Regions from separate parts of the Homo sapiens genome. Here region 1 is linked to region 2. The links come from fine-mapping of genetic effects on gene expression. Tissue or cell type: whole blood. Region 2 holds a variant in brackets; the other region holds the start of a gene. All regions are shown on one strand. Distances are from middle to middle.

Region 1 (5,116 bases), 240 kb after region 2:
TGGTAAAATAACCATGTTTCTTAAACAATGTCAGCTCCCCAGGCTATTTTTTAGGCATTATTAGGGCAGTCATTTCTTTTTTTCTCCAAAGTACCTGTCCATAAGACGGATAGAACCATTTGGTCCTACTTCTCAAGGTAATACTAGAAATGGTTCAAAAAAGTGCCAGAACATGATGGTTATATCACAGTTTTCACCCAACAATAGCAGGCTGTATCCCAGTATCTCCTTGAAAGGTCAGATGACAAAAACCATTAGGTTTTGACGATCATTTGCCCAGCCCTATCTGTCCTGTACTTCAATGTATACATTTTCATGTGCAGATTTCATTACTCCTTTCCCCCAGTGCTTCTCATCGCATTCATCCCCGGGGTTCCAGCAGCTGAATCTCTGCAGTGACTCAGCAGAGAGCCCCGGGAGGGGCGGCCAGAGCGGCAAATGGGGAGGCTTCCCCGCCGCTGCTCAGGGAAAGTGGGGGGTTAAAAAACGAGGCTATCGACCAACATACTCCACTCCTGGACACCCCCCTCCACACCCTCCTCCTCTTACTCCAAGAAAGCAAAGAGGCAACCTCTCAGGGGGCCATTTTTTGTCTTATTACCTCAGTAAAAATGCCCCCATGAACTTTTAGGATTTTTAGAAGTGAAGCAACCTAGCCGTCAGTAGGCAAAATGGGTTAAGCAAACATTTTTTGGCCAAAATCCCAACTATTTGATGAGCCATGAGCGGAGACAATAAGCAAACTCCAGTAACAAACTTTCCAAAAATTTCTGAGCCTTGATTTCTTCATCTTGTAAACAGAAAAACACACTCCCGTAATAATACCACCCAACCTGCCGCCCACCTGATGGCGTCGCCGCGAGACGAACCACTTTGAAAACCCGCGAAACCAAGGTGAACAATCCCTGCGCAACATGACAGTTTGGTCACATCGCCGTTCTCACTCGCGCTTGTTACTGAAATCTGAAAAATACTTAAGGCGGCTGACGGGCACTGCGAGTTCTAGTCACTGCGGTGACTCCCGCCACCGTGATACCTGGGTCTTGAAATCCTAAGCTGCACCGCGGCGATCTCGGCACTGCGATTATCCCGTTCTTGAAATCCTAAGGTGCGCCACGGAGACACCGGGGTTCTAAAAATCCTACATCGCACCAGGGCGATGCTGGGGCCTATCCTTTAAGTCGCACCAGAGCGATGCTGGGGTTCTAAAAATCCTACATCGCACCAGGGCTTTGCCGGGATCTATAAATCCTAAATCGCGCCACGGCAACGGCGGAGTCTAAGAATCCTGAATCGCACCAGAGGGAAGCCGGAGTCTAAATATCCTAAATCAAACCAGGGCGATGCTGGGGGTTAGAAATCCTAAATCATGCTGCAGCAATGACTGAGTATAAAAATCCTAAATCGCACCAGGGTGATGCCAGGATCTAAAAATCCCAATTCGCATCAGGGTGAGACCAGGGTCATTATGGATCCTAAGTCATATCAAGATGACGCTGGGGTCCAGAAATCCTAAATCTCACCACGACGATCCCGGGGTCTAGAAATCCTAACCCAAGGAGGTCCCGCGTTCTGAACATTCCATTGCGGGCAGGAGTGACACCCCCTCCTCAAGTAGGCAGAGCGGGCGCGGAATGCGTGCCGCCTGTCGGTAGAGTTTTCGCCCAGAGGCAGCCCCAGCTCGGACACGGGCACACAGTCCTCCGCTCGCCTGCGCCCTAGTCCCAGGGCCGCCAGCCACACCCCCTCGTTCCCACCGCACACTCACCTGCGGAGGCGATCTCGGCGCACCATGGCCGCGTTATCCCATGCCGCCCGCCGCAGCGTTGCAGAGCACCGGGCGCCGCAGAGCCCGCAGCCGTGCAGAGCTGGCCAGCAGCGGGGGCGCAGCCCGCAGCCCACAGCCCGCGCAGGGCGGCGCCGCGCCGGGCAGCTACAGCCACTCCGGCGTGCGCTGCGGCACTGCGCTTGCGAGGCGCAGCTGCCGCAGAGGAGGTGCCGGGGTGTGCTGGTTGCCGCGGCAGCGCGGAGCGAGTGGGCACCGACTTTTAGAGCCCACCCGCGCCCCGCCCCTAGCCCGCCCATCGCCGCAGAACCCCTACCGCCTGCTCCCTTGCTCGCCGCAGAGCCCCTCCCAGCCGCTCTACCACCGCCATGGCCACAAAGATGGGGTGCCCCTCTAACAGTGGCTCCTTTAGGGGGCACCTTCAGGGGTGTCGAGCCCCCTCCCCAAGACCCCGCTGCTCCCTCGTTAACCGCCAACCCTGAGCCCGAGATTCTGCTGCAGAAACCCTCCCCTGATGAGTTAAGGCCACGGGCAAAAACAGCAGACCCCTGAGTGCCCCAACTCTTTCCTTAGACCACCCACAAACCCCACAGGCCGCCCACAAACCCCACAGGCTGCCCACAAGCCCCACAGGAGGATGGCCGCTCGAACTAAGGGGCAGCAGGGCTCTGGGGTGCCGGCCGTGGCGCCTGCTCCCATCCCTCGTTCGAAGCGTGGGTACTGAACCGTGAGAGGTGGCGAGCCACGAGGGCCCTATGCGCCCTAAGCTTAACTACCGGTAACCACCAAGGGCACGAGCAAGCGGCTAGGGAGCAACAAGCTCTGTTGGACCCACCACCAAGCTAGTAAACAGATTCATGGGATGGCCACTATGGCCAAAGTTGCACAAAGTCCGGTTTCTCCCGCTCCAGCCACCGCCGCTGCGCGGGGCAGGTTTCCTTTACAGCAGCGCGACGTGGTCAGCATGCCAGACGCCTGGCCACAGCAGCGCCCTCGCAGCCCCGCTCGCTGCATGCGCCGGTCCGCGCTGCACAGAACAGTGGGCACAATTAGGAGAGCAAAGCCCCCTTTATTTACGTAAGATAGAATCACAATGCAAGGGCCCAGAGGCACAAGAAAGAGGGAGGAATTTTTCTAATCCATAATCCTTTAAAAGGCATCCCTTACGCCTTTGAAAAGTGTAGAGTATCACGAAGTGTCTGTGTTCATTTTCTGACCGTAAACTGAAATACTGGTGAACAAACGTGGGGTGCGAGCGGGTGAGCGGGGCGGCCGGCCGGTGCCCGCTGCATCCAGAGGGGGCGCTGCAGGCCTCCCTTCGGCTGCGCACGGCCCGGGCCCTCCGCGGCTCTGCAACTCTGCACCCCGAAAGGTTCGGTGCTGGACCGCGGGGCATCCAACCCGGGACCGGGGGCGACCCACGGACACTGAGGAAACTACCGCCTATAAGCCTATCATCAGAACCTCTGGCACAACACAGGTACACTTCTGCAGGGGTCTGGTTGCCCCCAGAAAAAGCACTCATGAAACAAATGCTGATTTAGCACCTACAGGGCACTAAGAACCGGGGGTGCGAAATAAATGAGAAATAGCCCCGGCCCGAAAACAACACACGGGCCATCTGGAGGGGAAGACAGACAAGAACTGCCACTTTGTAAAATTTTCCTTTTAATTTCCTAGCGACGTTTGTGGCAGTTGACCCACTCCTCCCTAACGTGTAAGGCCCTCAGAGGCAGAGCCCAAGTATTATTCACCTTTTGTAGCCCCAGAGCCCGCCACGGTGCCGGCCACAAAGCTGGCCCCTAATAAATACTGCTTGAATGAGTACAAGAATTTGAGGGCGCACAGGGGAGGAAGTAATTAAGGGGAGGGGCGAAGGGTGGTCTTGAATGATGAATAGACATTTACCAGAGAGACAAAGAACATTCCAGCCGGAGGGGACGGCTTTCGCAAAGCACCGGAGGCTCAGGGCCGCGTGTTTGGGGAAAACGGTTAGTCCTTTGAGCCGGCAAAAAATTAGGATAGCAAGAGAATTTCATCGTAGGGAATTAGGAATTTGTTCTAGAGAAAATGAGAAGCCACAGATGGATTTAAACTCTTTATGGCCTTAATTGGTTACTTAACAAAATTTAAATTAGTCTCTTTACAAGTCAAAGATTACCTATTTTAACTACCACTACCTTTTAAAGACTGAATTACTCTGCAAAATCTAAATCGGTTCTTCCAAAAAGGTAAAGGCTTTCCTATTTTAATAATAACAATAACAAAAGCCTTTGCATTATATATTTTTCATATTTATTGTTAATGGAAACTTTGAGTCCTACAAACAAATTCCACACTTTCATTCTCACCAGGCCAGAAACACCAGCATCCAAGATGAAGGCAATTTTCTGTTTATGGACTGAGTACCCCACAAAAGATCTTATTCTGAAGGCCATGGAACATGTCTACCCACATGGATCAAGTGGGCAGACTGGAGGAGAAACAGTTTAAAGGCCCTGGGGGAAGGAGGGAGCGCCAGGGAGAGCTCCTGAAGACAACAGGAATTCCAAGTCTGGCACTCGGGAGAAATCCTCCCTTCAGACATTATTGATGTCTGGCCGAGGAGTTAGGAAAAACTTCCTTGAAGGAGGGATTGAGGTTGAGATGGGCATGGAACCCAGATCTTAGGCAGAGAAAGCATATTCCTGTTTGGAAGAACCCTGAGTACAGAAGTCAGCTCAAAGATATCAGCTTGGCCCAACCAGGAATTCGCTGTGGGAAGTCTAAGAGAGAAAATGCTGGCCATAATCCCCCAGGAGCCAAAGAGTTAACGAATCTTCTAAATGTGCCTGATTTACTTCCAGAAAGGAGCTTCCTCCGCAGGGGGAGAATTTGACCCAAGGTATAAAACACTTGGAGCCCTGAGAAAACACACAGCCACACATAAATTCAAAGTCGGCTCTGGCTTGCTCGAAGTTGCACCCTTTCAGTTCCTCTGGACAGATGCTATCCTGGACTGTGCAGGATATCTCATGCAGTAGTACTCCCTCAGCCAGTGGCTTATCACACATTCTTGTCACATTCCAAGTCTAACACAGTTCCGCCTCATGATAAGACCTCAGATCTGTGCAAAAATTCATGTAGAAAGCTCTGCATTTATTATCTCGCTGATTCACAACAGTGGTATGGGATCAGCAGAGATGGTACCACAGATTCAAGAACCATATTTTTCTAACCCCAGTTTGAGACCCATAATATGACAAGTGCAGGATATTTATGGAGACAACAAGACACAACCGGGACTGCCACTTTCAAGAGCCATCATTGTAGATTCAAATCAACTAAAAC
Region 2 (5,203 bases):
AGAAGGAATCAGACATCAACAGTATTTGTTTTTTCTATATGTGTCTCTGCTGCTGTGGATGAAATCACTGACCACTCTGCTTGTGTATGTATGAATGTGTATATATGTGACCCTTTCTTTAGAGATGAGGCTGAAAGGCATTTCCTGCCCTGGGAGATCCCCTCTGGCCCCCTCCTGAATATTTTGCAATAGTCCATCACTGACACTTGGGGAAGATGCTGTAATCTCATAGGACCCTAACGGGCATCTGGTTAAACAAATTGCTTTCCCCTATTTTGCAGATGAGGATACTGAAGACTAGATAAGCTCAAAGTCATATGCTAGGTTGCTGGGAAGAGCCATGACTAGAACTTAGGTGTCTGGCCTGCTAAGTGACTCTTTCCCTCACACTTGATTACCCCCATCTCTTCCTCCTCTCTGGGATCTTAGTCCCTCCCTCGCTCCCTATTCTGTATTGCTTCTGTGTACCTTCACATGTTGATTGAACCCTTTGCCTATTGTGTTTGACCCAAAAGCCCTTTTCTTAACTGGTTACGTTCCCTCCCTTCACACCATGTGGACATAAAGTGAGAATGACTTTTTGGCATCCTAGGAGAGACTTTCTCTTTGGACCTGCTAGGTTAATTTTCAGTGTGAATTCCCTTCTTTTTCTGGTCCTGGGCATTCCAGCATCCTCAAGAGAGTGAATGATACAAACATGACATTGGGACTGTACTAAGTGCTCCTACACTAAGTGAGGGAGGGGTCCTTAGAAAGGACCAAAAGAGTATGGCCTATGACCCTGAAGAGGTTCAGTATTTCCTAATGAAGGCTAAGCAGGGAAGGTGGGGCTGTTGAGTTACATGTGGGAGGAGAAGGCCCCCCACTGTGAAAGTGATTTTTGGTAGTGGAAGGAGTCTTCTCTTTGCTCTGTTTGTCTCTTCAGCTAGGGCTGGATAGCTAGGGCATTGGGGGTCCTATTGAAGACTACTGTTTCCTCTTTGTCCTTTTCAGTTGAAGATCTGCCATTGGGTAAGTGGACCAAGGAAGCCAACAGGAATTTCCACTAACCATTCTGAAATTGGTTTCAAGAAAGCTTGGCTTTTCCAATCACCTGTTGATAAATAACTTTTGATTCTCAAGCTCCCAAATAGTGTCCTTATTTGGGTTCTTGTACACTAGGGACTTTTATCTGGAGATGGCCTCTGACAATCTCAATGTGACATGTCTTTCATTGGTAAAACTGACTCCTCCCAGGTCTTGAGGTGGTGGGGAAGGAGATACTCAGCACATACATGGGAGTAGCCAGATAAAGGTTTTTAGGTAGGTCTTTCTTAGTCTGAGTATTGTTGTTACCTTTTTCACTCCAGCAACCAGAGAGTTCTCAAGGAGTAGTTAGTGAAATGCCATGAAAAAGGCTTCCTAATTTTATTGGTGTTTCTTTGGTTTCTTTTTGTTAATCAGATGTACTCACTCAATGAGTGAGTACATATGGGGGTTGGTTGGGGTCAGACTGAACCTCTGAGCCATTGCCCCATCCCTGCCATCCACAGTTCGGATGTAGGAATGACCTAGTAGCAGAAACTATTCATACACCTCTTCCTGAAATATGGGTTGGAGGCTGGGAATGAGTTCTAGATCAGACCTTGGTTGTGAGGGAGTTGAATCCCCTGCTTCTGCTGGGAGGATGTGAAGAATACAGGCTTTGTCCCCACCCATGGAGGCAAGAATATGTCATTTGTCCCTATTTCCCTGTTCTTCTCCAAGCAGGGAACCATTCTGGAATATCATTTTTGACCCCCATCTCTACCTCTACACACTTCTCCCCAAAGGAGAAATGATTGTATTCTCTGATGGAGACATGGGGGGGGGGGGTCATTGTACACGCACACTCTTAAGTTCTCTCTTTTGCACCTCCCTGCCTGCAGTGTGCATGCACTTCACTCAGATCCTGCTTCCATAGGGTAAACACACCTGCTGAGCCCCAGACCTGCCTTCTAGAGGCAGGTTTGAAGAACACCTCTCTCTCTTTCTACTTTTGGGGCAGCTCTGTTCCTTGCTGCTATCCAGGTAAGTATTTCCACTGTATGTTTTTCTTTGGGTAGTCCAGATCCAAGACCAGGAATTAGGAGGAGTAGGGGAGACAGTGTATTAGAAAGCTCAGTTTTGACCATGATACAGCTTAATCAGCAAAGTAACAGTTGACCCTTGAGCAACATGAGTTTGAACTGCACAAGTCCACTTATGTGCAGATTTTTTTCAACCAAACACAGTTCAAAAATAGAGTATTTGTGGGATGCAGAGCCTGCTCATATGCTGTTCTCTACACATATACAAAAAGTCACATGCGAATAGAGTATGAAACTCTTCATATACATGGGTTTCACAGGGCCAGTTGGGCCTGGGTATGCGTGGATTTTGGTATACACAGGGATCCTGGAACCAATCCCCAGTGTATACTGAGGGATGACTGTACTGATATTTTGACCCTCATTAGTCTGATTCTTGTATTTATTATTCATTTGGCTGATAACATAGAGGGGAAAGAGGTAGAATTAATTTTCTCCCTTAAGC[C/A]CCACCACATTGAGATGTGCCTTGCCTGTTAAATCTTGAGAAATAGGCACTTCACCTGGAATTAGGGAATCAAAATAAGATGTGTGGAGATTGGATGTCTGTAATGCCAGAGTACAGGGCTTTAATGCTTTAATGATCTTCAGCCTTTCAGTTCTTTAGTCATTTCAAATCTTAGCAGCCTATGATCGCAAGTGTCCTCACACAAGCCACTAATTTATTAGAGTCACTGAGCATAGACTTTGGCAAAAGTGAGCTGTACAGAACACTGTGGCTGATTTTGATTCACATAGATGTAACTGAGACAGGATCACTGCAGAAAGGGAAGGCGCTATTCAATAGATCAATTTGTGCTGCCTTTATGCTCAGCCAGAATTGCAGTTGAGGATTCTAAGGTCAGTGGCATAAGTTCCATGTATATGTAAGAGCACAGGTTAGGGACATTCTAGCTCTTAAATTATTCTGGGAAGTATCAGGTGGTATCAGATCAGTTTCCCCATTATCTGGATTTGAAATGCACCCTTTAATAGGGCTAAGGAGAGGCCAATGGGAGGCTCCAAATCCTTTAATTCATATGGGATATCCAGAATCACCTTCTATTTATATTCCAAGTTGGTGCCAGATGTGTTTACTATATAAGCCCTGACAGTGGAATTTCAAGGCCTCAGCTGAATTTCTTGTGTGTTCAACCACAGAGAAATGGTGGATTTTATCACAAATACATAAAGAGGAATGGAAGTTTTTGTTATATAGGGGTTTGAGGAAGAGAAAAGCATTGTATACCATAATCCCAAAGGCAGGAAAAGTATTAAAAAGGCTTTTGCCTGAATCCTTCTCTCCCTAGGAATCAGGGTCTATTCAGGAAATAAAATGGGAGCCATATTTGTTTCAAATATATATATTTAAATCTTGAAATCAAAATAGAAGCAGTACAAGGGTGAAAACTGAAGAAAGGATGATGGTTTGATTAAGCTGAAAGAAGAGAAGGATTTATTTAGAAGAAAGGTTGTGTTTTCAGAGGACAGTATTGATGATGTGAAAAGAAAAATAAGAAAGACCAGTAGCCAACAATCTTAAACATGGAATTATAAAGGAGAGTGGCATTTTAATTATTAGTAGGTTAGAGGAGGTGATTAGAACCCTAAGAGATCTAACAAAAGAATGGACGCAAGCTTTACATGAATGTCTGTCTTCACTCAGGATCTCAGGCCCAAGAAAATATTGAGAGATACCTGTTTAAATTTGCAGAGAAAGCACTGGGAAATCATCCCTATCACTGAGATAGGTATAGTAGATGATTACAGAAAATGTAAACAATACTTCCAAGTATTTTTAGCTTAGTTTCAGTGATATTACCATTGTCAGTGGGAATATAGATGGTTGCTTGGAGAACGTACAGAAAGAAGTAAGTCTTTAGAAAGTGTGGGAAGATGAGACACATGAAATATATCAAAGTTATTGATCAAATTAATAGAAATTAGGAAGCAAAAAGGCATAACCGTCTCAATAGTTTCATTGTTAAAAATCAACAATGATTTGTGATTTAATTTAAAAATACCTTAGTAAACTAGTAACAAAAGATAATTTCTTAAGTTGATAAAAGGTATCTGCCAAAAGCCTACTATAAAAATCAAACTTAAATGTTGAAAGATTGCAAGCATTCCTATCGGCCACATGGTAAGATACAAAGAAAGTCTAGACAAACTTCAGGCAGGTAATCACATAAAAATACAACAAAAATATCATTAAAAATCCATAAATTGAGAAATCCGTAAAAGGAAGCCTCTACGTAAGTCAGACAGAAGGGGAAATTGCAGAAATTTGGAGCTGAATGAAAACAAAAAGCACTATATAGCAAGCAAAAAACACTAGGGGAGGAAATGTAATTTATAGCCTTAAATATTTTATTCAAAAAAGAGAAAGGTTGAATGAAGGTGAATGAACTAAGCTTTCAACTCCAGAAGAAAAGGAAAACATTTAAATATTACAATGGTTGTGGCCTCCAAAACAGCATACTACATAAATAGATATACACTATATGTGTGGTTTAAGATTTCATAGGGATGTGGGGAACGGGGAGTGATTAGGAAAAAAAAATCTGAAACCAATTCTGGAGGGGTGATAATAAAAAAAGAATGAAAAATATTATCATTAATAAAGCAGAAATTAATGAAACAAGAAAAAATAGGTAGCTTTGAGCAAAACTCTTTTAAAAGGTGAATAACAGTAGGTTTCTTTGGCAAATATAAATTTCTTAAAAAGAGAAGTCAGGGTCGGGTGCAGTGGCTCACGCCTGTAATTCCAAAACTTTGGAGGCCAAGGTGGGAGGGTCATTTGAGCCCAGGAGTTCAAGAAGCATGGCAAAGCCCTGTCTCTACCAAAGAAAAAAAAAAAAAAAAAAAAATTAGCTGAGTGCGTGGTATGCACATGTAGTCCCAGCTACTCAGGAGGCTGAAGCTGAAGAATTGCTTGAGCCGGGGAGGCCGAGGCTGCACTGTGATTGTGTCACTGCACTTCAGCCTGGGCAACAGAGTGAGGCCCTGTCTCAAAAATAAAATAAAATAAAATAGAAGGCACAAAAAGTTATCAGGAATAAAACAGGACATAAAATCATAACACAGATTTTTTAAATTAGAATAATACAAACAACTTT

Evidence for each region. PIP is the estimated chance that this variant, and not a neighbour inherited with it, causes the effect.
Region 1: MEST starts here. The variant in region 2 is fine-mapped to the expression of MEST in whole blood (TOPMed, PIP above 0.99).

What each region holds. Positions count from the first base shown.
Region 1 is chr7:130,488,992-130,494,107 of GRCh38, reverse strand. It overlaps MEST (mesoderm specific transcript), which reads right to left and starts at 2,023. Exons shown (of 12, transcript NM_002402.4): 1 at 1,769-2,023. The coding sequence starts at 1,794. MESTIT1 (MEST intronic transcript 1, antisense RNA) reads left to right here and starts at 3,131. Exons shown (of 2, transcript NR_004382.2): 1 at 3,131-3,266; 2 at 4,141-5,116. RefSeq lists a silencer at 2,986-3,195.
Region 2 is chr7:130,726,624-130,731,826 of GRCh38, reverse strand. KLF14 (KLF transcription factor 14) reads left to right here. Exons shown (of 1, transcript NM_138693.4): 1 at 1-1,130. Among named protein-coding and RNA genes, the nearest start is that of KLF14, 5.0 kb to the left of the region's middle. The variant C/A (reference allele first, on the strand shown) is at 2,554.